Homo sapiens: one gene and its partners. The protein of the gene in region 1 interacts with the protein of each later gene in a pairwise test. Each region holds a gene or a part of one and is shown in the gene's direction. Other genes may lie near its edges.

The links.
Region 2: the proteins of MPND (region 1) and JPH3 interact in binary tests that used the Homo sapiens proteins (3 or more experiments, as listed by UniProt).
Region 3: the proteins of MPND (region 1) and SOD1 interact in binary tests that used the Homo sapiens proteins (3 or more experiments, as listed by UniProt).
Region 4: the proteins of MPND (region 1) and NF2 interact in binary tests that used the Homo sapiens proteins (3 or more experiments, as listed by UniProt).

Annotation. Positions count from the first base shown.
Region 1 is NC_000019.10:4,338,850-4,346,564, forward strand, and holds the start of MPND (MPN domain-containing protein), read left to right. Parts: upstream 1-4,712; 5' UTR 4,713-4,744; coding exon 4,745-4,751; intron 4,752-4,858; coding exon 4,859-5,145; intron 5,146-6,895; coding exon 6,896-7,132; intron 7,133-7,715. UniProt on the Homo sapiens protein: Probable protease. Acts as a sensor of N(6)-methyladenosine methylation on DNA (m6A): recognizes and binds m6A DNA, leading to its degradation. Binds only double strand DNA (dsDNA) in a sequence-independent manner.
Region 2 is NC_000016.10:87,689,508-87,696,528, forward strand, and holds part of JPH3 (junctophilin-3), read left to right. Parts: intron 1-138; coding exon 139-1,019; intron 1,020-5,129; exon of another isoform or gene 5,130-6,634; intron 6,635-7,021. UniProt on the Homo sapiens protein: Junctophilins contribute to the formation of junctional membrane complexes (JMCs) which link the plasma membrane with the endoplasmic or sarcoplasmic reticulum in excitable cells.
Region 3 is NC_000021.9:31,655,163-31,662,705, forward strand, and holds the start of SOD1 (superoxide dismutase [Cu-Zn]), read left to right. Parts: upstream 1-4,530; 5' UTR 4,531-4,607; coding exon 4,608-4,679; exon of another isoform or gene 4,680-4,862; intron 4,863-7,543. UniProt on the Homo sapiens protein: Destroys radicals which are normally produced within the cells and which are toxic to biological systems.
Region 4 is NC_000022.11:29,606,615-29,613,635, forward strand, and holds part of NF2 (merlin), read left to right. Parts: intron 1-7,021. UniProt on the Homo sapiens protein: Probable regulator of the Hippo/SWH (Sav/Wts/Hpo) signaling pathway, a signaling pathway that plays a pivotal role in tumor suppression by restricting proliferation and promoting apoptosis.

The DNA of each region.
Region 1 (7,715 bases):
CAGCCCGTCAACTCCCTCCCCTGCCAGGGCTGGGCAGAGGCTGATCCCAGCAGGTCCAGTGATCCTAGGGAAATCCCCGCCTCTCCGGTGTGGAACTGAGAACAGAGAGAATGTATAAGTCTACTTGAATGGGAGAATAATCTTCGCTATATCTGCAAAGACAGAGACATGGTCTGTCTCTTTATTTATTTATTTATCTATTTTTCCTATTTTGAGACAGAGTTTCACTCTGTTGCCCAGGCTGGAGTAAAGTGGTATGATCTTGGCTCACTGCGACCTCTGCCTCCCGGGTTCAAGAGACTGCGCTGCCTCCCGGGTTCAGAGACTGAGTCCAAGCTCAGTCTCCTGACTAGCGTGGATTGCAGGTGACCGCCACCACGCCTGGCTAATTTTTGTATTTGTAGTAGAGACGAGGTTTCCCCATGTTGGCCCAGGCTGGTCTCGAACTCCTGACCCCAAGTTTTCTGCCCGCCTCAGCCTCCCAAAGTGCTGAGATTACAGGCATGAGCCACCACACCTGGCCCTTTCTCTTACTTTGATGGACCCTAATGATTACATTGGGCCCACCTGGATAATCCACGCTACTCTCCCTATTTTAAAGTCAGCTGACTAGCAACTTTAATTTCATCTGCAATTTTTCTTTTTTAGACGGTGTCTCATTCTGTTGTCGATGCTGGAGTGCAGTGGCACGATCATAGTTCACTGCAGCCCTGACCTCCCAATCTCAAGCGGTCCTCCTGCCTCAGCCACCCGAAGAGCTGGGACTATAGGTGGGCACCACCACACCCAGCTAATTTATTTTCCTTTTTTAAGGATGAGTTCTCACTATGTTGCCTAGGCTGGAGTACAGTGGGGCGATCATGACTCACTGTAGCCTCGACCTTACAGGCTCAAGTGATCCTCCAGCCTCAGCCTCCAGAGTAGGTGGTACTACAGTTGCATGCCACCACACCTGGCTAATTTTTTTTTTTCTTTTTTTTGAGACAGACTCTCGCTCTGTAGCCCAGGCTGGAGTGCAGTGGCGTGATCTCGGCTCACTGCAAGCTCCGCCTCCCAGGTTCATGCCATTCGCCTGGCTCAGCCTCCCAAGTAGCTGGGATTACAGGTGCCTGCCACCACGCCCAGCTAATTTTTACACTTACTAGAGACAGGTTCTTGCTATGTTGCCCAGGCTGGTCTTTTTTTTTTTTTTTTTTTGAGACAGAGTCTTACTCTGTCACCCAGGCTGGAGTGCAGTGGAGCGATCTCGGCTTACTGCAACCTCTGCCTCCCAGGTTCAAGCAATTCTCCTGCCTCAGCCTCCCGAGTAGCTGGGATTATAGGCACGTGCCACCATGCCCAGCTAATTTGTTTGTATTTTTATTTTAGTAGAGATGGAGTTTCACTGTGTTAGCCAGGATGGTCTTAATCTCCTGACCTTGTGATCCACCTGCCTCGACCTCCCAAAGTGCTGGGATTACAGGCATAAGCCACCGTGCCCGGCCCTCAGGCTAGTCTTGAACTCCTGGGTGCAAGTGATCCTCCAGTCTAGGCCTCCCAAAGTGCTGGGGTTACAGGTGTGTGCCACTGTGCCTGGCGTCTATCTTTAATCTTCAAATCCCTTTGCCACGTATCCTAACGTATTCACAGATTCTGGGAATTAGGGCGTGGATATCTTTAAGAGACCATTATTCTGCCTACCACAGCCTGTTTAATATGGTGGACAATTGATTAATTTTGAATACTGAATCAGTCTTGGGTCCCTGGAGTAAACCCCACTTGTCATGGTGTATAATTCACTTTATATATTGTTAAATTCTACTTTGTAATATTTTGTTAAGGATTTTTGCACGTCTTCATGAGGGATATGGGGTGTAGCTTGCTTTCTTTGTACCGTCTTTATCTGGTTTTGGTATCAGGGTCATAGTTCCATAAAATGAACAGGGAAGTGTCCCCTTCAATTTTCTGGAAGAGATGATGTGAAATTGGTGTTAATTCTTCTTTGAACCTTTGGCAGAATTCCTTAGTGAAACCATCTGGGTCTGGAGATTGCTTTTTTGGGAGTTTTTAAATTACAAATTCAATTTCCTTAGTAGTTACCAGGGCTAGACTTTGTATACATAGCAGAACAGGTGTTCTAGAAATCACAGAAAGGCCGTGGGACTGTGGCAATGTGTTCATCCACTGAACTGTCTGATAAAGTTGATAGTATCAGCTATACTAAGTAAGGTCAGAGAGTTGATTTTTGTTTCGTTTTTTTGTTTGTTTGTTTTTTCAGACAGGGTTTTGCTCCTTTTGCCCAGGCTGGAGTGCAGTGGCATGATTTCGGCTCACTGCAACCTCCGCCTCCCGGGTTCAAGCGATTTTCCTGCCTCAGCCTCTGGAGTAGCTGGGATTACAGGTGCCTGCCACCACCCCCGGCTAATTTTTTTGTTTTTATTAGAGATGGGGTTTCACCATGTTGGTCAGGCTGGTCTTCAGCTTCTGACCTCAAGTGATCCCAAAGTGCTGGGATTACAGGCGTGAGCCACTGTGCCCAGCCAGGGTGGTTAGTTTTTATTGTATTTGTCTAAGGCAATGTGGAGCGACAGAAGGATTTACAGCATGAGAGGAGGGCAGGGTGCGGTGGCTCACGCCTGTAATCCAAACACTTTGGGAGCCCAAGTGGGAAGATTGCTTAAGGCCAGGACTTGGAGACCAGCATGGGCAACATAGTGAGATCCCCTTCTTTTACAAGAAAATTAAAAATTAGCCAGGCATGCTGGTCACGCCTGTTGTCTCAGCTACTCTGGAGGCTGAGGCAAGAGGATCATTTGAGTCCAGGAGGCCAAGGCTGCAGTGAGCCATGATTACACCAATGCACTCCAGCCTGGGAGATAGAGCAAGGCCCTGTCTCGAAAAGAAAAGAAAATAGGCTGGGCGCAGTGGCTCACACCTGTAATCCCAGCACTTTGGGAGGCTGAGGCAGGTGGATCACCTGAGGTTGGGAGTTCGAGACCAGCCTGGCAAACATGGTGAAACCCCTTCTCTACTAAAAATACAAAAATTAGCTGGGTGTGGTGATGTGCATCTGCAGTCCCAGCTAATTGGGAGGCTGAGGCAGGAGAATCGCTTGAACCTGGTAGGCAGAGGTTGTAGCGAGCCAAGATCTTGCCACTACACTCCGGCCTGGGTGACAGAGCGAGACTCCGTCTCAAAAAAAAAAAAAAAAAAAAAAAAAAAAAAAGAAAAAAGAAAAGAAAAGAAAACAAAATAATAATATGGGAGGGAGGTGGTAATAGGTGCATTTTAGAAAGAGCCCTCTGGGGCAATGGTGGAAGACCGACAGGGTGGGGCATGAGTTTGGAGGCCTGAGACTCACTGCGATGGCCAGGATTTGGGTGCAAGAGGCTGGAGGTGTGGCTCAGGGTTTTGGAAGGCAGGGGACGGAAAAAAAGCCAAAGAGAAAGTGCGTAAGGAGTTGGGGAAATAAACTGAGGCCGGTTTGGGCTATGCTGAGTCTGCAGGCCTTGGGGATGCCCGTTGTTGGCTGGACAGTCAGGGTGGGGCCCCTAAAGGGTGCCTGGGCTGGACAACAATAGTTCACATGTACCCAGCTCTTGCTCTATGTCAAGTCTTCTTCCTGAGAACATTCCCGAGCACCCTGGAGAGCCTCCCCCGCACCCCTACTGTCCAGTTCCCACTTCCCGACTGCGGTCTGGGCAAAGCCACCCGCACTTGAGCCCATCCCACGGCGTCCCGGAGCTTTAGGAAGTCCCCATCCCGGACTTTCAACCCTGCCAGGGACTGAGGGAAATCCCAGAGCCTGGGCTCCGGGACGAAGGTCCCAGGACAGGGTCGGGGATGTAGTTGCAGAAACAGGGTAGGGGACAAAGGCCGGGGCTGCACTGATCAGGCGCGCAACGAGCCCGGCCCTGCCTCCTGCTCCGCCCAAGGGTATGGAGGGCCGGACTCGGCTGGCCTTATACCCGGAGCTGATTGGCTGGTGAGTCCAGTCCCTGCCTCTGATGGTTTGCGCTCATAACTAAGGGTTTCTACTGATTGGTTTACATGGACGTCTGCCCATTGGTCAAATCCGAGTTGGTGTAATCAGATAGTTGACACGGATTGGTTGGTGCGGGAATCCAGTAGCTTGCTATCGATTGGTTGAGGGTGAAATAAATGGGACTCTTATCATTGGCTGGCGGGCTCCGCAACGGTCCAATCATGGAATCAGTCGAGGGCCGCCCGGGAGGGTGGGAGTTAATTCTTTAGCGACTGAGGCCGGCTTGGGCTCTTTGGCTCCACCTGTGTCTGCGCGAGGCTGTTCCCTATTGGAGTCCGCATTGTTCCCCTGGACCTGAGTTTCTCCCCTGGTCCTAAAGGCCGAGGCCTCTGAGTTCCTCAAGTGCGGTGACCGCAGGTCTCACCTTCTCCTCTCCTTGCAGCAGGCTGAGCCACTCGCGCACCCGCCCCAGGCTTCCACCTTGCAACCTCTATCCCTGGACAGCGAGGCCTCAGTTTCCCCATTCGCACCAATGAGCTCCCGGTCAACACCCCGTCACGCCTCAGTTTCCCGAATGTTCCCAGAGGGCTGAGTTCCCGATCTCTCTCCCGCGTGGGCATCCCCGAGGCCTCAGTTTCTCCGCCCACCCCAGCGCGCCGAGCCCTTCCCCCGACCCCGGCGACGGCCAATGGTTGGGGCGCCCCTCCCCTCCCCGGGGCGGGGCCGCGTGACGTGCCGGGAAGCCGGAGTCTAGAGCTCCGGGCGCGGGGAGGCGCGGCCATGGCAGGTACGGCGGGCCCAGCGGGGCGGAGGCGCGGGGCGCGGGGCTGCAGGGGCGCGGGGCTGCAGAGCCGTGGGGCGAGCGGCCTCCCTGCAGCCTCTCGCTGTCCGCAGCTCCGGAGCCGCTGTCCCCGGCGGGCGGTGCGGGCGAGGAGGCGCCGGAGGAGGACGAGGACGAAGCGGAGGCCGAGGACCCTGAGCGGCCGAATGCGGGAGCGGGCGGTGGACGCAGTGGCGGCGGCGGCAGTAGCGTCAGCGGAGGAGGCGGCGGCGGCGGGGCCGGGGCGGGGGGCTGCGGCGGGCCCGGGGGCGCGCTCACCAGGCGCGCGGTCACACTGCGGGTGCTCCTCAAAGACGCGCTGCTGGAGCCTGGCGCCGGGGTGCTGTCCATCTACTACCTGGTGAGCACCCCGCCTCCCTCGTCCCATCGCGGCTCGGGCAGGAAGGGGAAACTGAGGCCTGGAGTTCCCTTGCTGCAGGACAAGCTTCAGTGTAGGGAGGGGACACTGAGGCCCGGAGCTCCCTTGCTGAGAGACGAGCCCCGGTGTGGCGAGGGGAAACTGAGGCCCGGGGCTCCGTTGACTGCAGGAAGAGCTCCAGTGTGAGGAGGGGAAACTGAGGCTCGGAGCTCTCTTGGCTGCAGGAAGAGCCCCGACATGAAGAGGGGAGACTGAGGCCCGGAGCTCCCTTGGCGGCAGGAAGAGCCCCGGTGTGAGGAAGGGAGACTGAGGCCTGGAGAGCTCCCTTGCTTTAGGACAAGCCCCAGTGTGGGGAGGGGAAACTGAGGCCCAGAGCTCCTTTCCTGCAGGAGGAGCTCCCGTGGAGGGGACACTGAGGCCCGGAGCTCTTTTTACGGGACAAGCCCCATGTGGAGAGAGGAATCTGAGGCACAGATGGGTCCTTCTGGTGGGGAGGACGTAGATTACCAAACACCCCATCCCACAAAGGAGAAGCTGAGGCTCAGAGAGGAGCCACCACCCGCGCAGGGTCAGATGGGCAACACCCCGGCCTTCCTGTGGTTTCCCAGCCGTGAAATGGAATATTTCCCCACCATGGGAAAATTAGGGGATGGTTAAATGAATAAAGCCCTCAGCAGGCGCCTGCCACATGGTAAGCACTTTATCTGTGGTAGGTATTAGTACTTTTTTTTTTTTTTTTTTTTTGAGACAGAGTCTCGCTTTTTTGCCCAGGCTGGAATGCAGTTGCTCGATCTCGGCTCACTGCAACCTCTGCCTCCCGGTTCAAGCGATTTTCTGCCTCAGCCTCCCGAGTAGCTGGGACTACAGGTATGCGCCACCACGCCTGGCTAATTTTTTTTTTTTGCAGTTTTAGTAGAGACGGGGTTTCACTATATTGGCCAGGCTGGTCTTGAACTCCTGACCTCGTGGTCCGCCTGCCTCAGCTCCCAAAGTGCTGGGATTATAGGCGTGAGCCACCATGCCCGGCCTTTTTTTTTTTTTTTTTTTTTTTTTGAGACAGAGTCTCGCGCTGTTGCCCAGGCTGGAATGCAGTAGCATGATCTCGGCTCACTGCAACCTCTGCCTCCCGGTTCAAGCAATTCTCCTGCCTTAGCCTCTTGAGTAGCTGGGATTACAGGCACCCGCCACCACGCCTGGCTAATTTTTATATTTTTAGTAGAGATGGGGTTTCACCATGTTGGCCAGGCTGGTCTCAAACTCCTGACCTCAGGTGATCCGCCCGCCTCAGCCTCCCAAAGTGCTGGGATTACAGGCGTGAACCACTGCACCCAGCCCTGTATTATTACTATTACTGTTGTCATTATTGTTTGATTTGTGAATGGTAGCACATTATTCCCCTTCTGAATGGGAGTTTCTGAATGGAGCAACTGCTGAGTGTTGCATCCTGGAGACACAGCAGTGATCAAGACAGACAGACCCTATCCCCGATCTTAGGGGTTTCTTGGTCATGGTGGGCGGGGTGCAGATATCTGCCAGGCAGCTTGGTGCAGGCTGATCAGGTTTGTGGGTGTGGACTCCCAGGCACTGAGGAGGCCCTGCAGCCGGCCTGAGAGGTGTTCCTGGAAGCCCTGTAAAGACATGCCTGAGGGAGCGTAGGTCTGGGGAGGACCCCCCGGGAGAGAGGGCATGGTGGGTGTTGGTCCTGGGCCCAGCCAGCTGACTGTCACTGCAGGGGAAGAAGTTCCTGGGCGACCTGCAGCCAGACGGAAGGATCATGTGGCAGGAGACCGGGCAGACCTTCAACTCACCCAGCGCCTGGGCCACCCACTGCAAGAAGCTGGTGAACCCTGCCAAGAAGTCGGGCTGTGGCTGGGCCTCTGTCAAGTACAAAGGCCAGAAACTGGACAAGTACAAGGCCACCTGGCTCCGGCTGCACCAGCTGCACACGCCTGCCACGGCTGCTGATGAGGTACGTGCTGCAGCCTCCTCCAGGAAGCCGCCCAGGTCACTGTGGAATGAGGGGTGCCCAGCCTGGCACAGCTCTCTCCGGAGGAGGTATTAGTAATATATACAAACACGGATGGAGCCCTTACCACGTGACATGCCTCCTCCATCCCTCCAGGGCTGGGGCGGAGAGAGGGGACATGGGAGCTTGGGCTTTGAGGGATGAGCAGGAGTTTGTCAGAGCAAGTTGAAGGGAAGAGCTTTCTAGAAGGATGGAATGGCATACGCAAAGTCATGTAGACAAGAAGAAAGACCTGCTGGTGTCATGGGTGGCTGAGGGGGCTGGAAATGATGGCAGGGACCAGAGGGGCACTGGGGGAACTTCAAATGCTATGATAATAGATGTTCCCTGAGTGTTCACCAGCCGGGTGAACTTGACCAAGGACCCTTTGTGTGCCTTAGTTTTTTTCTTTTTTTTTGAGACAGGGTCTCACTCTGTGGCCCAGGCTGGAGTGCAGTGCCCCCATCTTGGCTCACTACAGCCTTCACCTCCTGGGTTCAAGCGATCCTCCCACCTCAGCCTCCCTAGTAGCTGGACTACAGACGCA
Region 2 (7,021 bases), on another chromosome or scaffold:
TTGCCTGCAGCCTTTCGGTGAGTGGGAAGCGCCTCTGCTGCCCTGAGGTTCCCTCTGGCGCCCTGGCCCGGGGACCGCGGCCTCGCTGTGGAATGTGCTGGGTAACGCCGTCTGGCGTCGTCTTGTGTCCCCATACAGGGCTGGAGTACCAGAGGCCGAAGCGTCAGACCTCCTGTGACGACATCGAGGTGCTGTCCACCGGGACACCCCTGCAGCAGGAGAGCCCCGAGCTGTACCGCAAGGGCACCACTCCCTCCGACCTGACCCCCGACGACAGCCCCCTGCAGAGCTTCCCCACCAGCCCCGCGGCCACCCCGCCGCCCGCGCCCGCCGCCAGGAACAAGGTCGCCCACTTCTCGAGGCAGGTGTCGGTGGACGAGGAGCGGGGCGGGGACATCCAGATGCTCCTGGAGGGCCGGGCCGGGGACTGCGCCCGCAGCAGCTGGGGCGAGGAGCAGGCCGGGGGCTCCAGGGGTGTCCGCAGCGGTGCCCTGCGCGGCGGCCTGCTCGTGGATGACTTCCGCACCCGAGGTTCGGGCCGCAAGCAGCCCGGGAACCCCAAGCCGCGGGAGCGGCGGACGGAGTCACCCCCCGTGTTCACGTGGACTTCCCACCACCGGGCCAGCAACCACAGCCCCGGAGGCTCCAGGCTGCTGGAGCTGCAGGAGGAGAAGCTGAGCAACTACCGGATGGAGATGAAACCCTTGCTGAGGATGGAGACGCATCCCCAGAAAAGACGCTACAGCAAGGGCGGCGCCTGCCGGGGCTTGGGGGACGACCACCGCCCCGAGGACCGGGGCTTCGGGGTGCAGAGACTGCGGTCCAAGGCCCAGAACAAGGAGAACTTCAGGCCGGCCTCCTCCGCGGAGCCCGCCGTGCAGAAACTGGCGAGCCTGCGGCTGGGCGGGGCCGAGCCCCGGTTGCTGCGTTGGGACTTGACCTTCTCCCCGCCCCAGAAATCCTTGCCTGTCGCTCTAGAGTCCGACGAGGAGAATGGGGATGAGCTCAAGTCCAGTACGGTGAGTGGGCGGCCACCAGGCTGGTCCCAGTGGAGGCAACATCCACCTCTCTGCTGACCTGGTGTTTCCTGAGGGTTTCCAGCAAGGTCACTGCTCCCCTGTTCCTCTCCAGGGGTGGAGTAGGGTGGGGGTACAGCCGGGAGTGGTGGCCCTCAGGTCGCTGGGACCCTCCCCTAGGAAGCCAGGTGGGGCAGGTGTCATACCTCTTTCCGTGAGAGGCTGCCCCCAGGTTGTCCAGAAAGCACACGAAACTCCTGGTTTCCAGGCAGCATGGGATCCCTGCGCTCCCCGCAACGTGCTCAACCCCAGCTGCTCCAAGAGTCTGTGCCCCTGGTCAGTAGCCTTGGGCCGTGAGATGACCGCTTGAGTGTCCTGTGTCCTGGATAGGAACCCAGAGGCGAAACAGCTGGGGGCAAGGCTGGCCCTGGGGCTGGGAGTCAGGTCTGGGGTTGGGGGGAGCTGCCAGTCCAGGTTTCTCTCACCCATGGGGGGTGTTGGGGTTGGAGCCGGCTCCCACGTGAGGCCCGCTGTGTGCAACTCACCGTCAGCCTCACCCAGCACCCCCCCCCCAAATTCGTTCCTCCAGGGCAGGCAGCTTGGAGGGAAGAACAGCGTCCCCCTGGGCTAGACTCGGCGCGAGGCTGGGGGTCCCAGGCTAGACTCGGTGTGCGAGGCTGGGGGTCCTGGTGCCTCACACAGGGCTGGCCTCCCCTTGAAGGGACCTTCACTCTGCAAATCCCACCCTGCTCCCTTGACCAGTGCTGCAGGAATGAAGGGCTTTGGGAATGAAGGGCTGTGGGACGGTGGCTACATAGGATCTGCGCACGGCCAGGCCCTCACCCCAGCAGGGCTCTGCTCGCTCGTGGCTGCCAGGCAGTGCGTGGTGCTGAACAGAAGTGCTGCAAGCCAGTCTGCCCCTCGGGTGTGAGGACGCAGGGGGGTGTCCGCAGGGGGCGCTCAGGGCGTGTGGGCCGGGCAGGGGGGACCATTGGTAGGTTTATTGTCGACGCTGCGGCAGGGGTCGGTGTCTGTCCCTGCCCCTGACCTAGGGGAGCTGTGGTTTTCTCCTCCTGCCAGCCCCACCCCCAGAGGGGTCACCGCGTGACACCCCTTTGAAGGGGCACGTCCTGCCGGGCGGCAATGCCTGTTTCTGCCTCTCCTTGGAACCACTGCGGACGTCTGTCTGTCCTGTTGGGTTCCTAAGATGCCTCCCCGTTCCCCAAAGCCCACAGAGAACAGCCCCTATGCTCCTGCTGGGACCAAAATACCAGCTCACACTTACAACTTGATTTTCCCCATCGCAGCCGGAGATGTGTGCGTGGCTGTGCGCGCGCGGTTATTTTAGGAACAGCCAAGCAGTGGGCAGGGTGGGAGGTGTAGGGACGGGTTCTATTTTTAGCCTGCTTAATGCACTGACACTTTTGGGTGCTTTTAAATGAACCTCCCTGGGGGTCAATGCACAAGCTGGGGACAAGTGCCAAGCTGGCCTCTGGGATGAGTTAGCGACACGCAGGGTGCTACATGCTGCCCTGGTCCTGCCCGGTCTCCAGCTGGGGCTAATCTGGAGGTCCCGTCAGCTGCAGCATCATGTCCCACCCACCCTGGAGGATGCCAGCTGAGCTCCTTGGAAGTGGCCACCCTGGGGTACCTGGTGCTGGTGCAAACAAGGTTTCCCTCCCTGTCTCCCTCCCCGTCTCCCTCCCCACAGCTTTGGAGCTGTGTTTTCTGCCAGGTCTGTGAGGGGAGATGGTGTGTAGAGGCGCGGTCAATCCTAAGCACTGTTCCAGGCCCTGTTGGTGGGAAGCAGGAGGGGCCCGTGCCAGCCGGCATCCATGTCAGGGGACAGGTGTCAGGGCAGTCGGGTGCCAGGCTGGGCTGAGTGCCTTCAGTGCCACCCCCTCACAGGGGTACAGCTCTCTGCAGTGTCTCCCCTGGGCCACCAGCAGGGTCTGGGGTGCTGTCTTCTGGCCATCCCCCTCCACCATTCCCAACATGCTGCAGAGCTCACACGCCAGAGGCCCTGGGTCCCACTGGCCACAGATGGGCCTGGGATTCTAGCCCACATAGGGTCCCACTGGCCACAGATGGGCCTGGGATTCTGGCCCGTGTAGGGCCCTGGCAATTCAGGGTAAAGTCCCTTAGGATGGAAGCACAGGTTCTCCCTACCGCTCTACTGGTGAAGGAACTCTGGCCCTGGCTGTTTCCCTCTTGGTGAAATGATGGATATGACCTGATGGTGGGGTCCAGGGTTGGAGGATGGCTGGGGAGACAGAAGCTTCCCTCCTGCGGGCAGCCACGCCCTCGCCCACAGCGTCCGTACCTGCTTCCCGGCCCAGAGCACGGGCTGGACTGTGGCAGAAGAGGTGCCACTGACCACCCCACTCTGTCCTGCTACCCCACTACAGGCTGACTAGCATCCGGCCCTTCCTCCTCGCTGGGGTGGGGGAACTTTGCACCAGGGGTGGCATCAGTGGGCAGGGCTGGGCCCTTGGCTGTTCTCTGCCCCCTGCAGGCTGGCCCGGCCCAACCAAGTTGTCATGGGGCCCAAGACTCACAATACACCTGCCTGAGGCCACGATGCCACGGAAAGCTGGGCTCAGGGCAGCTTGCTTTCTCTCTGGCTGAGTGGAGGCCCTTGCTGTGTCCACAACTCCACTTCCATCTGCGCCTCAGGTCCCTGATAGGCTGGGAGGTTGCGGAGGGTGTGGGCCTGGTGCTGCTGTGGCTGCAGGTGCCCCCTAGGCAGCACCTCACCCTCTGAGGACCCTCCTCTCTGAGCTGCATCCCAAGGACAGTTTACAAAGCCCTTTGCTGACTGGGGTTCAGCTTATCTGTTGAGCAAACTTTTTCTTTAAAAAGTTTCTTGGCCAGGCACGGTGGCTCACACCTATAATCCCAGCACTTTGAGAGGCCGAGGCAGGTGGATCACCTGAGGTTATCAGTTCGAGACCAGCCTGGCCACCAGGGTGAAATCCTGTCTCCACTTAAAAATACAAAAATTAGCCGGGCATGGTGGCACACGCCTGTAATTCCAGCTACTCAGGAGGCTGAGGCACAAGAATTTCCAGAACCCGCAGGAGGCAGAGGCTGCTGTGAACTGAGATCATGCCACTGCACTCCAGCCTGGGCAACAGAGCGAGACTCCATCTCAAAAGTTTCTCAAGCCAGTGTCTCTAGGGCCTGAGGGCTCCAATCCCCAGTGTGAGGTGAGGCGCTCGGGCCTGGGAGCTGATGCCCAGCATACAGTCGGGGGTGCCCCTGCCAGGTGTGGTGCAGAGCACGGCGGGGGTGTGTGAGACCTGAGGATAGCGTCTGGATGTTTCTCTCACGTTAACGGGAATGAGATAGGCTCATTGGCTGCTCATCCCCAAATCCAAATGGAAAACCGCCATTCGGGCCAGGCAGAGGCAAGTACTCCCACCCGTTGCCGCTGCCGTGTTGAGCCCACCGTGCCGAGTGGTGTTGGCAGGAGCCTCCCGAGGAAGCTGTGCCAACGCAGGAGTGGTCAGAGCCTGTCCAGGCCACAGACGGGGCTACGATGAGCACTGCTGCCCAGGGCATGTTGGGGGCAGCTCCTGGAGACCACAGGGAGGGGAGGTGGGCACCCAGGTGTGGGCAGAACTGGACCAGGAGGAGGAGGGGCAGCAGCTTGCTCAAGGCACAGGGCCTCAGCCACAGGGTGGCGGGCTGGGAAGGGGCGAGGGTGTGGTGGGTTCTGAGTGCCCCATGCAACGGCTGTTTTGGGCCACGTGCTCAAGCAGGCACCCAGGGAAGACCAGCCTAGGTGCTGGCGTGAGGCCCTTCAACATCAGCTACGATGCTGCTTCATCAGGAGCACAGCCTGGGGAAAGAATGAAACTGACCCAGGAGACAAAAGGGTCCCCGGGCCAGACGGTCAAGCAGGAGGCTGCTTCGCTGCCGCGGGATGTGGCATCCAGGCTAGGCAAGGGGACGGCAGGCTGCCATCCCCAGAGGGAGTTCTCCGGGCAAGGCCGTGACCCCACTGGGGCTCTGAGTTTGCATCCTTCCTGTGTGTCAAGAGCAGAGCCGGCCACTGCCAGCCCATAGCTCCCATGGTGCGGCCCTGGAGAGCTGACTTCATGCGGGATGTCTGCTGTTCTTTGCGTAGCTTTACTGAGACAGAAAGCGTGTACTGTTCACTTCAGGTGGCCACAGTGTACAAGTCAGGGATTTTAGTGTATTCCCAGTTATACAGCCATCACCCCCAATTCTATCTAGATCAGCTCCATCACCTTAAACCTCAGGGCCATTGAGCAGGCACTTGCTGTCCCCTCCTCCCCCAGCTCCCGGACTCTGCTTTCTGCCTGGTGCCCAGCTTCTCACGCAGCATGCACTGCTCCTGCGCTTTCTCTGTGGCAGCCGCGGTTGCACGGCCCATGTCTTCCCCGCTGTGTGTTCATCCTCCACTGGACAGCTGGCTCTGCTTCCACTCCGTGGCTGTTGTGAATCCTGCTGCCGGGAGTGTGTGCACACACAAGGTTTTGAGTGGAGGCTTGACTTTGCCCTCTTAGATTTAGGCCTGGGAGTGGAACTGCTGGGTCCCCGGTGTTCTCATCAATTCTCTTCCAGTCTCTGGGAGAGGAGCCAGCAGCAGCTGCTTCGTTGTGGGTGGGGGGAAGGGGGAGGCCCGTTGTTCGGGCTCCCCTCCTTAATGCAGGCCTGAGCAGCCCTCACCTGGTGCCACATGAGCTACTCAGTCTTAACAGACCACCCCATCATGTCTTTGAAATTTGACCAGAGGCCAGACTTGGGGGCTTAAAGGAGTCCATGGAAAACCAGTCTGTTAACAGGGAGGGGGAGGAGAGTAGCCATCCCTGAGGAATGTGCATCCTGGGACCTTCAGGACAAGCCCTGGTCCATCTGTGTCGCACAGCAGCAGGATGTCTGCGTGGTAGGAAGTGGAGGGCTCCGGGGGCTCTGAACAGCTCCTTACCACAGTGGGGTCTACATCTCCTTCCAGGTGGCTGCGAGATGCAGGGCGTGGTGGGGGTGGGGAGAGGCAGGGGCAAGTGTCCTCTGGAAGCAGACTGTGGGCAAGACTGGAGTGGGTGTCCCAGCCATTCCTGGGCTGGGGCCACCGTCCAGGAGGCGTCCATTCCCTGTGCAGCAGGTACTGTATCTGTAGGGCAGCACCCACCCCTGCCGTCCTGGGAGCTTCCCAGAGGGGCCACGCTCCCTCTCCCCCTGCCTGGTGTGAGCAGAACACAGCAGAGTGCAGGACTGCAAGAATCACTGCAGAAGGGCGCCCCCGGAAAAGGCTCTGTTGTGAGACGTGTCCTACCTGGCCCCGGCAAGCACAGGGAAGGTGGCAGCTTGGTCCGAGTGCCCAGGCTGTGCGGCTGAAGGGGGAGTCTGGCACTTGGGGCTCCGGCGGAGGCTGAGGACTTGTGAGCCACTTCAGGGAGGTGGTGGCAGCAGCATTCAGGACCATAACCTAAATCCAAGGCAGCTCGCAATTGGACACAGTCCTCCAGAGCCAGTTGGCGTGAGGGGTTTGTTGAGGAAGGTGTGGTGAGGGGGGGTTTTGTTGAGGACACTGTGCTCACGGACTTTGGGAGTCCTCTGAGTTCCAGGGCCTCTCTGCTGGGCTGCATCTGACACTGGCCATGGCAGCCATGCGGGCCCTTCTGAGATTCTGAGGTCCCAGTTCCACAGGGCAGGAGAAGCCTGCTGACTGGCACAAAGGCCACACGCACCGAGACGTTTGCTTGCAGGGAGGCCTGGGTGGTTCTCTCCAAGGGGACCCTGGGAGAGCTGGTACTCAGGGTGTCGGGGCCACAAGGGAATTCCAAGGGAATTCCAGGACCAGCAACCTCAGACGTACAGGCAGCTGGGGCTTCTCTCCCGCGTCTGGACTTCACGGAGCTCAGGTTCTGGTGGGCCTTTGGTGTCCAAGCGTTTCTAACATCCTCCCGTACGCTTCCACCCCCGAGGGTCTGCTAGCTTGGTGAAAAGACGTGGGTGGGAGGCGTGGTGGCCCA
Region 3 (7,543 bases), on another chromosome or scaffold:
TCCTGAGCCAGCGAGACCACAAACCCACCAGAAGGAAGAAACTCCGAACACATCTGAACATCAGAAGGAACAAACTCCGGACACGCCACCTTTAAGAACTGTAACACTCACCGCGAGGGTCCACGGCTTCATTCTTGAAGTCAGTGAGACCAAGAACCCACCAATTCCGGACACACCAGCTACTAGGGAGGCTGAGGTGAGGGGATCACCTGAATCCAGGAAGTCGAGGGTGCAGTGAGCCGAGATCATGCCGTTACACTCCAGCCTGAGTGACAGAGTGAGATCTTGTGTCAAAAAAACAGAACAAAATAAAACAAGAACGTTGAATAGGCTGTGTGTTAATTCTGAGATGGAGTCCAGACTTAAGAATGATCCTGAGGCTTAGACCCATATCCAAGAGGATGATTCCAGCCTGGCACTTATAGGTTCTTCAGGCACTTCAGATGCACCCTGTCCTGAATTAAGCCCTTTGTCCTTGAACCTGCTTTCCTTGGTAAACAGCACCAAGGGGGCTAGAAACCTGGGGGCTGCCCTTACCTTCCCTCTCTCACCATGCACCTCTAATGGGTGGCTGGACTTGTGGTTGCATTTCCGTGATCTCCCAGCTTTCTTCCAGTGATGGCCTTAGGTGGGCTCTTATCCTGTCTCCCAAATGGCCTCTCTGCCTTGAGTCTCACCCCATCTGCTCTCAGTCCACCCACTGAGCTATTCCAGAGACCATTCTGACTCCCTGTGGACACCCCTCTGGTGGCTTCTCCTCTCTGTCAGTTAGAAATTGCTTTTGACTGCATGTAACAAATGTGGTTACGCTATTTAACCAAATAAAGGTTTATTTTTCTCGTGATGAAAAGTACACAGATAAGCAGCCTACTTCCATCGATAACCATTGAGGGTTTCTTATGACTCTTACAGCAATGAAATGTGTATTTACAGTATAAAGATATACAATTTTAAGGTTTTAATATAATTGGGCCTAAGCACAGTATTTTTTGTTTTAGTTTTCAACTGCCCAGGTGATTCTATTGTGCAGCCAGGGTTGATAAACACTGCATCTAGGCCCAGTGCCTTTGATTTGCAGCTGAGGTCTAGAGAGAATTATTGAAACTGCAGTCCCAGCTACTTGGGAGGCTGAGGTTGGAGAATTGCCTAAGCCCAGCGGGGTGAGGCTGTAGTGAGTCAAGACTGCACCACCGCACTCCAGCCCGGGCGACAGAGCAACACTCCATCTAAAAAAAAAAAAATTTCTGGTCTACCTTTTTGCCCACCTTTTAACCACAGAGGTCCCCAAACATGAATTTTCACTCTCAGGAAGGCTGAAATGACACATTACAAGCGGTTTAGTCATCTGCACGTGCCGCCATCTGATTTAAGGCATCTATTCCTCCTCACCATTCCTGACAAAGTTGAACTGTCTACATGTGCCACATTCTCCTCTTTCTCTAATTCCTTCCCTCCTTCCCTCCTCCCTTTCTTCCCTCCCTCCCTCCTTCCTTCTTCTTTCTCTTTCTTTTTCTTTCTCTCTTTCTCTTTCTTTCTCTTTCTCTCTCACTCTCTTTTCTTCTTTCTGACAGGGTTTGCCTGTTCTGCTTCTTTAAACCCTGGGGTTCAAGTGCAAAGGTCCCTCTCATCTGATTTCCCTATTTTATTTTATTTAAGTTAGATACTCCACGATGATGATGATGATTATTGTTGAGACAGGATTTCATTCTGTTGCCCAGGCTGGAGTGCAATGGTGCGATCACAACTCACTGCAGCCTCAACCTCCTGGGCCCACGCGATCCTCCTACCTCAGCCTCCCAAGTAGCTTGGACTACAGGGGTGTACCACCATGCCCGGCTAATTACATGTGCCAGATTCAACCCACGTTCCAGGGTTCCAAACAACCAAGGCTCTATCATCCTGTCTTAACAAATATACCTTCATAAAGACCTGGAAGGCAGGTTGAAATGTGGAATTCTTGGACTTCTTTCAGTTCTACGTAGAAGGGTAGCAGTGGAGAGCTGGCTGCCTGCCCGCCCCTGGCCTTTCCTCCTTTCCCCACCCCTGCTCCTTGTGGCACTGGGCAGGGCCTACGTTCAAGGCTAGCAGTGTACTCAACAAGGGACAGTCCCTGTGTGGCCTGTTCAGGATCCTATACACAGGCTCAGGGCTCTTTGGGCAGGAAATTCCAGGATCCGGGTACTCAAGTGGTGTTCTAAACAGTGGTTCTTGGCCGGGTGTGGTGGCTCACACCTGTAATCCCAGCACTTTGGGAGGCCGAGGCTGGCAGATCACTTGAGGTCAGGAGTTCGAGACCAGCCTGGCCAACATGGTGAAACCCCATCTCTACTAAAAATACAAAAACTTAGCCAGGCATGGTGTGCACGCCTGTAGTCCCAGCTACTCGGGAGGCTGAGGCAGGAGAATCACTTGAACCCAGCAGGCGGAGGTTGCAGTGAGCTGAGATTGCACCACTGCACTCCAGCCTGGTGACAGAGTGAGACTCCATATCAAAATAAATACATAAATAAATAAAAACAGTGATTCTTAACTGGGAGTGATTTGGCAACGTCTGGAATTATTTTTGGTTATCCCAGCCTGGCAGGGAGGGACAGGGTATTACTGGCATCTAGTGAGTAGGGGCTAGGGATTCTACTGAACATCCTACAGTGTACAGGACAGCCTCCACAGCAAAGAACTGTCTGGCCCAAAATGTCCATAGTGCCCACATTCGATGCCCTGCATTAGGAAGATATAAATACTCTTAAATATCACAGAGTTAAATTCCTTACCCCTGTTCTAGCAGAGATGATATTCTTGCGGGGGGAGCATCTTCTTGGCTTCAACACATTCTTTTCTCCATGGGAGATGATGCCAGAAGAGGGACAGAACAGGGCCCAGTAAAGCATGGGGCCTGGGGCCAGGGACCCCCTTGTTCAGGTGTGACGACCATCCTACGAAGGCACCACCCAGGCATCATTAGACCGTCTCAAAAGAAGAGTAATTCACTGTCCCAAAGCAGCTCTCTCGTGTCTGTGGGCGGATCCCTTGGCAAGTTTACAATGAACTGAAATCTGCCGAACTTCCTGGAACCCAAAGAAACTTTAGCCTTGGGCAAAGGCCCTTTGGCCAGCATTTGCACTGTTTATGCAACCGTTTAGAATATACGAATTATCTGGAGACTACTACCAAATACAACAGGCAAAACTGCAAATATGTATACTTCCTAGAGGATGATAAAAAAATGTGAATTGTATTTCTCTGATAGAGGATGCATTAGAGTCTGAGGGTCTAAATAGCGTAAATAATAAATAAGTAAATAAATCGATAGTAGTGTACTCCAAACGAGGCTGGAATAGCTTCTATTGTTGTTTCACACTGGACTTCAATTAAGTCTCAGTATTTTGCCATACTCAATATTAAGTACTAGGCTGGACGTGGTGGCTCATGTCTGTAATCCCAGCACTTTGGGAGGCCGAGGTGGGTAGATGGCTGGCTTGAGCTCAGGAGTTTGAAACCAGCCTGGGCAACATGGTAAAACCCCATCTGTACCCAAAATACAAAAATCAGCCAGGTGTGGTGGCACATGCCTGTGGTCCCAGGTACTTGGGAGGCTGAGGCAGGAGGATGGCTTGAACCCAGGAGGTGGAGGCTGCAGTGAGCTATGATGGCGCCACTGCACTCCAGCCTGGGTGACAGAGCGAGACCCTGTCTCAAAAATCAAACAAACAACCCCCTCGCCCCGGACAAAAGTAGTTTGCACTATTTTCTCATTTCACAATATGTTTTTGAAATATTTCCCTTGAAAGGTAAGTCATATTTATCATTCCTGTTGTATGGAGGCATCATAAATTATTTCACCATTCTACCCTCCTTGAGTGTTGTGGCCTTTAGGCCAGACAAAAACGCAGGTGATGCCTAGAAGCCAACTAGTTGCCGTTTGGTTATCTGTAGGGTTGTGGCCTTGCCAAACAGGAAAAATATAAAAAGAATACCGAATTCTGCCAACCAAATAAGAAACTCTATACTAAGGACTAAGAAAATTGCAGGGGAAGAAAAGGTAAGTCCCGGGATTGAGGTGTAGCGACTTTCTATACCCTCAGAAAACTAAAAAACAAGACAAAAAAATGAAAACTACAAAAGCATCCATCTTGGGGCGTCCCAATTGCTGAGTAACAAATGAGACGCTGTGGCCAAACTCAGTCATAACTAATGACATTTCTAGACAAAGTGACTTCAGATTTTCAAAGCGTACCCTGTTTACATCATTTTGCCAATTTCGCGTACTGCAACCGGCGGGCCACGCCCCCGTGAAAAGAAGGTTGTTTTCTCCACATTTCGGGGTTCTGGACGTTTCCCGGCTGCGGGGCGGGGGGAGTCTCCGGCGCACGCGGCCCCTTGGCCCCGCCCCCAGTCATTCCCGGCCACTCGCGACCCGAGGCTGCCGCAGGGGGCGGGCTGAGCGCGTGCGAGGCGATTGGTTTGGGGCCAGAGTGGGCGAGGCGCGGAGGTCTGGCCTATAAAGTAGTCGCGGAGACGGGGTGCTGGTTTGCGTCGTAGTCTCCTGCAGCGTCTGGGGTTTCCGTTGCAGTCCTCGGAACCAGGACCTCGGCGTGGCCTAGCGAGTTATGGCGACGAAGGCCGTGTGCGTGCTGAAGGGCGACGGCCCAGTGCAGGGCATCATCAATTTCGAGCAGAAGGCAAGGGCTGGGACGGAGGCTTGTTTGCGAGGCCGCTCCCACCCGCTCGTCCCCCCGCGCACCTTTGCTAGGAGCGGGTCGCCCGCCAGGCCTCGGGGCCGCCCTGGTCCAGCGCCCGGTCCCGGCCCGTGCCGCCCGGTCGGTGCCTTCGCCCCCAGCGGTGCGGTGCCCAAGTGCTGAGTCACCGGGCGGGCCCGGGCGCGGGGCGTGGGACCGAGGCCGCCGCGGGGCTGGGCCTGCGCGTGGCGGGAGCGCGGGGAGGGATTGCCGCGGGCCGGGGAGGGGCGGGGGCGGGCGTGCTGCCCTCTGTGGTCCTTGGGCCGCCGCCGCGGGTCTGTCGTGGTGCCTGGAGCGGCTGTGCTCGTCCCTTGCTTGGCCGTGTTCTCGTTCCTGAGGGTCCCGCGGACACCGAGTGGCGCAGTGCCAGGCCCAGCCCGGGGATGGCGACTGCGCCTGGGCCCGCCTGGTGTCTTCGCATCCCTCTCCGCTTTCCGGCTTCAGCGCTCTAGGTCAGGGAGTCTTCGCTTTTGTACAGCTCTAAGGCTAGGAATGGTTTTTATATTTTTAAAAGGCTTTGGAAAACAAAAATACGCAACAGAGACCGTTTGTGTGACACTTTGCAGGGAAGTTTGCTGGCCTCTGTTCTAGGTCATGATTGGGCTGCAAGGGCAGAGAAGGTAGCCTTGAACAGAGGTCCTTTTCCTCCTCCTAAGCTCCGGGAGCCAGAGGTTTAACTGACCCTTTTGGGGATTTTTGAGGGCAGTGATCTTAACTTTGGGTGCACAGTTAGCTTATTTGAAGATCTTACTAAAAATACACCAGAGCCCAACCTCCGACCAATTACATCAAAACCTGTCCTAGTGCAGGGTGAGTATTGCTGTTTTTTGAAAGTTTCCAAAAGTGATTTTGATGTGCACCTACGATTGAGAACTGTCGTTTGAGGACAGTGGGTGGAGTTTCGTATTTGGAAATTAGAAGACCTGGAGTTTCCATTACACCGAATTGGCACTTAATAACTGTTGTCGGAGCATTTCTTAAGCCACATTTTCGTAAAGTGGCTTTAAAATTGCTCTGCCAGTAGGCAGGTTGCTAAGATGGTCAGAGACAAACTTCTGAACGACTCTTGTAAAATATACAGAAATATTTTCAGAACTTTTATCAGTAAAATTACAAAACGTGTTGCAAGGAAGGTGCTTGTGATAACACTGTCCCCAGAACCTTAGTGAAGTTACCAACTGGTGGAAAATTTTCTCTTGCACTCGGCTTAAAAATCATGAGGGAATATTTACTATACGAATGAGATTCAGTCTTTAAAGGGGTTTACAGAAACGTGAGAGGACAGGAACAGTTAGTCTGTGTAAATGTCTGAAATATATGTGAGGGAGATAATGAGTTTAGCCTTTTTCTTTAATAGGTCTCCAGATTTTCTGGAAAAGGTTCTTTGGCATTTGACTCCATTTTGCTGTTTCATTTGTCAGACTTCTTTTTGTCCCTCTTTACTTCTCCCCACATAATTCACCAGTACTAGTGTTTTGTTTTTCAGACCAAGTCTCGCTCTGTCGCCCAGGCTGGAGTGCAGTGGCGCGATCTCAGCTCACTGCAACCTCCGCCTCCCAGGTTCAAGCAATTCTCCTGCCTCAGCCTCCCGGGTAGCTGGGACTACAGGCGCGCGCCGCCACGCCTGGCTAATTTTTTATATTTTAGTAGAGACGGCGTTTCACCATGTTGGCCAGGATGGTCTCGATCTGTTGACGTCGTGATCCACCCGCCTCGGCCTCCCAAAGTGCTGGGATTACAGGCGTGAGCCACCCCGCCCGGCCACCAGTGCTATTCTTAAGACGCCTCTGAGGAATCCCTTCTCCCTGGCCATTGAGAATCCATGCATGAACCCAGGTTTTCCACCTTCCCTGAGCAGCTTGCATAGTTCCTTCTTTTAAGCGCCTGACTTCGTTTTGTTTGGTGCCCGTTGTACCTGAGAATGAGCCTTGGATAGTGGAGCATTCCAGCTTTCCAGATATGCAGAGATAATACATTGGCTATCAGCTACTTGGCTTGGCCTATTCCGTGTTTAAAATCTTGGACTCTTTGCTAGTTTTTACAGATCAGAATTTTTCACGTATTAATCCAGTTTTCCTAGCTTCTCTTGAAGAATTTTTGGAGATCTCTTCATACTGAGCCTTCATTAGCCCAGGACAGTACTGCTGTAGCAGTTCATATATTTTTTCGCTTCCCAGGCCTGTGTTATTCACTTAAGTTCATAGCCTGGTCCCTGCAGGGTTGTACCCGAGCACAGCTACTTAGATGTCCTGAATGTATTACCGGTTAAATGGAGGTTTCAAAGAACCTGCTGTTTTTGGCCCTGTGCTCTTGATAACAGAGTGTTTGAGGGACAACTTTCACATTTGAGTTTTTCCAAAATTAAAGGTTGTAGAAGAGTCACAGTATCTATTGTCAAAAAGAAAAGAATTTAAAAAGGCAGCAATTGCCAGGATACTTCATTTGAGCAATGATATTTTCCAGTGGAAAGTCACATCTTAAGGGTTAATGCCCCTTAACTGTTGGCCGTATTTGAAAACAAACCAAGCTAAAAACAAGAGACACTGACATGTTGTATGACGGTGTGGTGTGGATGTTGTGTTTATTTTAGTCCTGAGATCTAGTTGTAACTTCCTTGATTTCTGTATGTAGCCACGGAGCACCATTACCTGTCACCATTACCTGAATGGCTATACTGCTTGCTTTCATTTTGGTAGAGTGGAAAGGTTACCTAGGTTTCAGTGCTTGAAAAGATTTCAGAAAGCAGTAGTACGTCTGGTTAGACTAGAATCAGTCCTCTCCTGGGGGCAGTGGAATATAATATTTTC
Region 4 (7,021 bases), on another chromosome or scaffold:
GTGAAGGTTTTGGTAAGAGGCAACTGGGAGATCTGCGGATTTAATGGAGATGCAGCCTAGACTGTAGGCCTCCTGGTTTGCTGGAAAGAATTGGGGAATAAGACAGCTGGAAGAAGCCATTCTAGGATCAGAAGAAGGATCAAACATTGACCGCAGCATGGTGGCTCACGCCTGTAATCCCAGCACTTTGGGAGGCTGAGGCAGGCAGATCATCTGAGGTCGGGAGTTTGAGACCAGCTTGACCAATATGGTGAACCCCATCTCTACTAAAAATACAAAAATTAGCTGGGCATGGGGGCATACACTTGTAATCCCAGCTACTTGGGAGGCTGAAGCAGGAAAATCACGTGAACTGGGAGGTGGAAGTTGCAGTGAGCCAAGATCACGCCACTGCACTCCAGCCTGGGTGACAGTGAAGCTCTGTCCTGTCACAAAACAAAACATTGACCACAGACCTCTGAGGTGGTGGATGTCCCTCCTGTCCTGGTTGTATCATTATACATTGTATATTAATGTATCGAAATACTACAGGTACCCCCAACATGTGTACAACTATTATGAATCAATAAAAAACAATTTGAAAAGTAAGGTATGTGGCAGAGGTGGAAAAAAATGCTTTCCTCCAAACAGCCACAATTTGATTGTATCAGTTTGTAGAGTAAGAGCAAGTTATGCCTCAGTGTGTTGTTGAAAATAATAGAACAATATGCCACAATTAGTGGAGCTTCATAGCTGGGTGTGGTCAAGGAGAGAATAGAAGAGAACCCTACCAAAACCACTGTCATCCCAGGGTGACTGTGAGCATACCCAAAGCTGCACCTCCCTGAAGAGCAATATCATAGGCCTTAACACTTTTCAGGGGAAATGGATTTCACTCAAATAATCCAGCCAGTCGCTAAACAAATAAATAACAATTGGCCCTGGAGAGGGGGTACCAATCCCCAGAGTTGCTACAGTATATTATCTAAAATGTCCAGTTTCCAACAAGAAATTGTGAGACGTACAAAGAAACAGGAAAATATGACACATACACTGGAAAAAAGCTGGCAGCAGCAACTGCCTGTGAGACAAGGGGCCAAATTAATGAAAAAGGCTTCAAACTGGCCTATATATATATTCACAGTACTATATATATTCACAATACTAAAGGAAAATATGATGACAAAGAAGTAAAGGATGGTATGACACTGTTGCATCAATTAAAGAATATCCATAAAGATATAGAAATTATAAAAAAAGAATCAAATGAAAATTCTGGAGTTGAAAGTACAATAACAGCTGGGCGCGGTGGCTCACACCTGTAATCCCAGCACTTTGGGAGGCTGAGGCGGGCGGATCACCTGAGGTCGGGAGTTCGAGACCAGCCTGACCAACATGGTAAAACCCCGTCTCTGCTAAAAATACAAAAATTAGCCAGGCGTGGTGGCCGGCACCTGTAGTCCCAGCTACGCGGGAGGCTGAGGCAGGAGAATTCCTTGAACCTGGGAGGCGGAGGTTGCAGTGAGCCAAGATCGAGCCACTGCACACCAGCCTGGGCAACAGAGCAAGACTCTGTCTCAAAAAAAAAAAAAAAAAAAAAAAAAGTACAATAACAAATTTAAAAATTAACTAGAGGGACTCAGGACTCAATAACAGATTTGAACTGGGTGAAGAAAGAATTCGTTAATTTTTTTTTTCTTTTTGAGACAGAGTCTCGCTCTGTTGCCTAGGCTGGAGTGCAGTGGGGCAATCTCGGCTCACTGCAACCTCTGCCTCCCTGGTTCAAGCGATTCTCCTGCCTCAGCCACCGCACAGTGGCTTTGGGAGTACTCTGGGAGGCTGAGGTGGGTGGATCACCTGAGGTCAGGAGTTCAAGACCAGCCTGGCCAACATGGTGAAACCCCATCTCTACAAAAATACAAAAATTTAGTTGGGCATGATGGCGGGTGCCTGTAACCCCAGCTACTTGGGAGGTTGAGGCGGGAGAATTGCTTGAACCCGGGAGGCGGAGGTTGTAGTGAGCAGAGATCGTGCCACTGCCCTCCAACCTGGGTGACAGAGCGAGACTCCATCCCTGCCCTGAAAAAAAAAAAAAAGATGTGAAACACATACAAAAAAAAGTAAAATGGCAGTTGAATGCCAAGTAATTAGATAACTTCAATAAAATGGACAAACTCCTAGAAAGATATAAACCACCAAAATTGACCCAAGAAGAGACACTATCTGAATAGACCTATAACAAGTAAAGATATTAAATTAGTAATTGAGGGGACTCGTGGGGTAACTTGCCCTTGGGAACCAGTAGTATGGCATCGGGCTGCAAGATTGGCCTGTCCATCCTCAATGCTACCTGGCCAATTTAGGGGCCCAGTGCCTCTGGATGCTAGACTCTGGGGTCGATTATCTCCACCGGAATGTAATGGATGAACATGCATGTGATGGTGTCCAAGCCAGAACAGTGGGTAAAGCCAATGGCTATAAGAGGAGCCAATCAGTACATCTTTCATCTCGAGGAAACTGAGAACCCAGGGGCTTTGATTAAAGACATTCAGGAGAATGGGATGAAGGTTGGCCTTGCCATAAAACCAGGAACCTCAGTTCAGTATTTGGCACCATGGGCTAATCAACTAGGTATGACCTTGGTTATGACAGTGGAACCAGGGTTTGGAGGGCATAAATTCATGGAAGATATGATGTTAAAGGTTCACTGGTTGAGGATCCAGTTCCCATCTTTGGCTATAGAGGTCGCTGGTGGAATAGATCCTGACACTGTCCATAGGTGTGCAGAGGCGAAGCTAACATGATTGTGTCTGGCAGTGCTATGGTGAGGAGTGAAGACCCTAGATCTGTGATCAGCCTGTTAAGAAACATTTGCTCAGAAGCTGCTCAGAAAGATTCTCTTGATTGATGAAACCTTAAGGAGCCCAATGTTTGTTTATGAAATCTCCTTTTTACTGGAAAACAGGAATATTGACTACCAAATCATAGTGTAGTTGAAGCCATTCTGCGTTTTTGAGCAGTTATTCGTTTCAGTGATTATAATTGATTGTGCAGAGTATTCTAAGAAGTTAGAAATTGGTGTGTATAACTACATTTTCAGTGATGCAATTTAATGATTAGTGAGTGAGATACTGTTTTTATTGAGAGCCTTGATTTTTATAAAGAGTAAAAATATGGCTGCATTAAGGGTACAAACAGAAAAGTGTCTTAATGTCTAAGGAGGGCATATTAGCTACACTATAAAAACAATTTTTTTCTGTATTTCTGAAAAGAATTTTGTTGTTTCTCAGTTGTTTTCCAAAAGCAAAGGAAGTCTTAATGTTTTTTTCTATTTCGTGTTATGTGTGATTTGTTTATATGCTTGGTAATATGAGTCTAATGGAATTTAAAAATATAAGTTTGGGTAGGATAGTATACCCTTAAAAAATAAATAAATAATTAGAGAGAGAGAGAGAGAGAGAGACCTGGGCACAGTGGCTGTTGCCTGTAATCTCAGCACTTTGGGAGGTCAAGGCAGGAGGATCCTTTGAGGCCAGGAGCTTGAGACCAACCTGGGCAACATAGAGAGACCCCAACTCTAAAATATACATACTATATCTAAACTCAGCTAGGCGTGGTGGTGTGAGCCTGGAGTCCCAGCTACTCAGGAGGTTAAGGTGTGAGGATCACTTGATCCCAGGAGGTTGAGGAGGCAGTGAGCTATGATTGTGCCACAGTGCTTCAGCCAGGGTGACAGAGTGAGACCCTGTCTCTTAAAAAAAAGAAAAGAGGCTGGGTGCAGTGGCTCATGCCTGTAATCCCAGCACTTTGGGAAGCCAAGGTGGGCAGATCACGAGGTCAGGAGTTCAAGACCAGCCTGTCTAATATGGTGAAACCCCATCTCTACTAAAAATACAAAAATTAGCCGAGCATGGTGGAGTGCGCCTGTAGTCCCAGCTACTCGAGAGGCTGAGGCAGGAGAATCGCTTGAACCCGGGAAGTTGGAGGTTGCAGTGAGCTGAGATTGCGCCACTGCACTCCAGCCTGGGTGACAAAGTGAGACTCCATCTCAAAAAAAAAAAAAAAGAAGAAAGAAAAGCAAAGCAAAGCCCAGGCCTGTACCTACTAGAGGTCCTGATAACTTCACCACTGAATTCTATCAAACATTTCAAGAAAAATTAATACAGTTCTTCACAAAGTCTTCAAAAATGAAAAAGAGGAGAAAATACTTACAAACGAATTTTATGAGACTGGTATTACCCTGTTGCCAAAAACCAGGAAAAGACATTACAAGAAAAGAAAACCATAGACAAATATATCTTACAAATGTGGAAGCAAAAATCCTCAACAAAAATACTAGCAAACTGAATCCAGTAACATATAAAAATAATTATATACCATAAACAAGCAGGATTTATTCCAGGAGTGCAAGGTTGGTTTAACATCCAAAAATGAATTAGTGTAAATAATGTAATGCATTATATCAATAGAATAAAAAACAAAAATCACCTTGTCATCTCAGTAGACACAGAAAAAGCATTTGACAAAATTCAGCATGTTTTTCATGATAAAAACACTAAATAAACTAAGAAGAGAAGAGCAGTTCCTCAACCTGATACACAGCAGTTATGAAAAACCCACAGCTAACTTCATAATAGTGAGACTGAGGCCAGGCACAGTGGCTCACGCCTGTAATCCTAACACTTTAGGAGGCCAAGGTTGGAGGGATCACTTGAGGTCAGGAGTTCAAGAACAGCCTGGCCAACATGGTGAAACCCTGTCTCTACTACAAATACAAAAAAAAATTAGCCAGGTGTGGTGGTGCATACCTATAATTGTAGCTACTTGGGAGGCTGAGGTGGGAGGATTGCTTGAACCTGGGAGGCAGAGGTTGCAGTGAGCTGAGATAGCACTACTGCACACAATAGGCTGGGCGACAGAGCTCAAAACAAACAAACAAACAAACAAAATAGTGAAAGACTGTATGCTTATCCTTAAGATTAGGAAAAAGAGAGATAAGTCTACTTTCACTACTGCTATTCAGCATTGTACTGGAGGTTCTAGCCAGGGCAATTAGGCAAGAAAATGCAATAAAATACATCTATGTTGGAAGGGAACAAGTAAGATCATCTCTGCAGATGACATGATCTTGCATATAGACCCTGAGGAATCCACTACCAAAGTATTGGAACTAATAAATTATTAGTTTAGTAAGGTTATAGGATACAAGATCATTACACAAAACTTAGTTGTAAATGTATCCACTTGGAATGAACAATCTGAAAAGGAAATTAAGAAAATTCCATTTACAATAACCTAAAAAATAAAAATACTTATAACAAAAGAGGTATCTTTTTTTCCATCCTCTGACAGTTTAGTAAAAGAAAGTATAAAACTTATACTCTAAAAGCTGTAAAACATTTTTGGTTTTGTTTTTTAAATTAATTTTTTTTGAAACGGAGTCTCACTCTGTCGTCCAGGCTGGAATGCGGTGGCGCGATCTCGGCTCACTGCAACCTCTGCCTCCCAGGTTAAAGCGATTCTCCTGCCTCAGCCTCCGGAGTAGCTGGAGCTACAGGTGTGCACCACCATGCCTGGCTAATTTTTGTATTTTTAGTATAGAGGGGGTTTCACCATGTTGGCCAGGCTGGTCTCGAACTCCTGACCTCAGGTGATCCACCCGCCTCAGCCTCTGAAAGTCCTGGGATTACAGGCGTGAGCTAGTGCGCCCAGCCTGGCCTTTTAAAATATTTAATTAATTGATTTTTTTTTTTCTCGGACTTGCACTGAAGTGAGAACAAGTGCAGTGGTGCAATCATATCTCAGTGCAGCCTAGACCTTCCAGGCTTAAGTGATCCTCCTATATCAGCCTCCCAAGCAGCTCAGACCACAGGCATGCGCGATCATCCCTAGCTTTTTTTTTTTGTTTGTTTGTTTTTTAATTTCTTGTAGAGACAGAGTCTCCCTGTGTTACCCAGGCTGGTCTTGAACCTGACCTCAAGCAACCTCCCATGTTGGCCCCTCAAAGTGCTGGGATTACAGGTGTGAGCCACCGTGCCTGGCCTGTAAAACATTTTTAAAAGAAAGAAGATATAAATAAATAAATAAATAGAAAATAGCTCTTGTTCATGGATCATAAGACATAACGTTGTCAAATTGGCAGTATTTTGGAAATTGATCTACACGTTTGACATAATCCCTGTCAGAATCCCAGTTTATTTCATTGTAGAAATTGACAAGTCTCCAGGCGTAGTGGCTCATGCCTGTAATCCCAGCACTTTGGGAGGCCGAGGCAGGCGGATCACCTGAGGTCAGGAGTTCAAGACCAGCCTGGCCAACATGGAGAAACCCTGTCTCTACTAAAACTACAAAATTAGCCGGGTGTGGTGGCACATACCTGTAATCCCAGGTACTCGGGAGGCTGAGGCAGGGAATCGCTTGAACCTGGGAGGCGGAGCTTGCGGTGAGCTGAGATCACGCGCCACTGCACTCCAGCTTGGGCAACAAGAGCGAAACTCCATCTCAAAAAAAAAAAAGAAATTGACAAGTCAATTCATAAATTCCTATGGAATCGCAAGGGACCCACAATAGCTAAATCTTGAAAAAGAACAAAGCAGAAAGACTCACGCTTTGTGATTTCAAGACATACTATAAAACAACTAATCAAGACAACGTCACCAGGCACCGTGGCTTATGCCTATAATCCCAACACTTTGGGAGGCCAAGGCAGGCAGATCACTTGAGGACAGGAGTTCGAGACCAGCCTGGGCAACATGGCGAAATCTTGTCTCTACCAAAAATACAAAAATTAACCGGGCGTGGGGGTGCACACTTGTAGTCCAAGCTGCTTGGGAGGGCTGAGGCACAAGAATCCCTTGAACCCAGGAGGTGGAGGTTGCAGTGAGTCGAGATCGTGCTATTGCACTCCAGCCTGGGGGACAGAGCGAGATTCCATTTCAAAAAAATAAAAATAAAAAGACAGTGTGGTACTGGTATAAGGATAAATGTGTAGATCAGTGGCATAGAATTGAGAGTCCAGAAATAAACCCAGTGGAATAGAGTT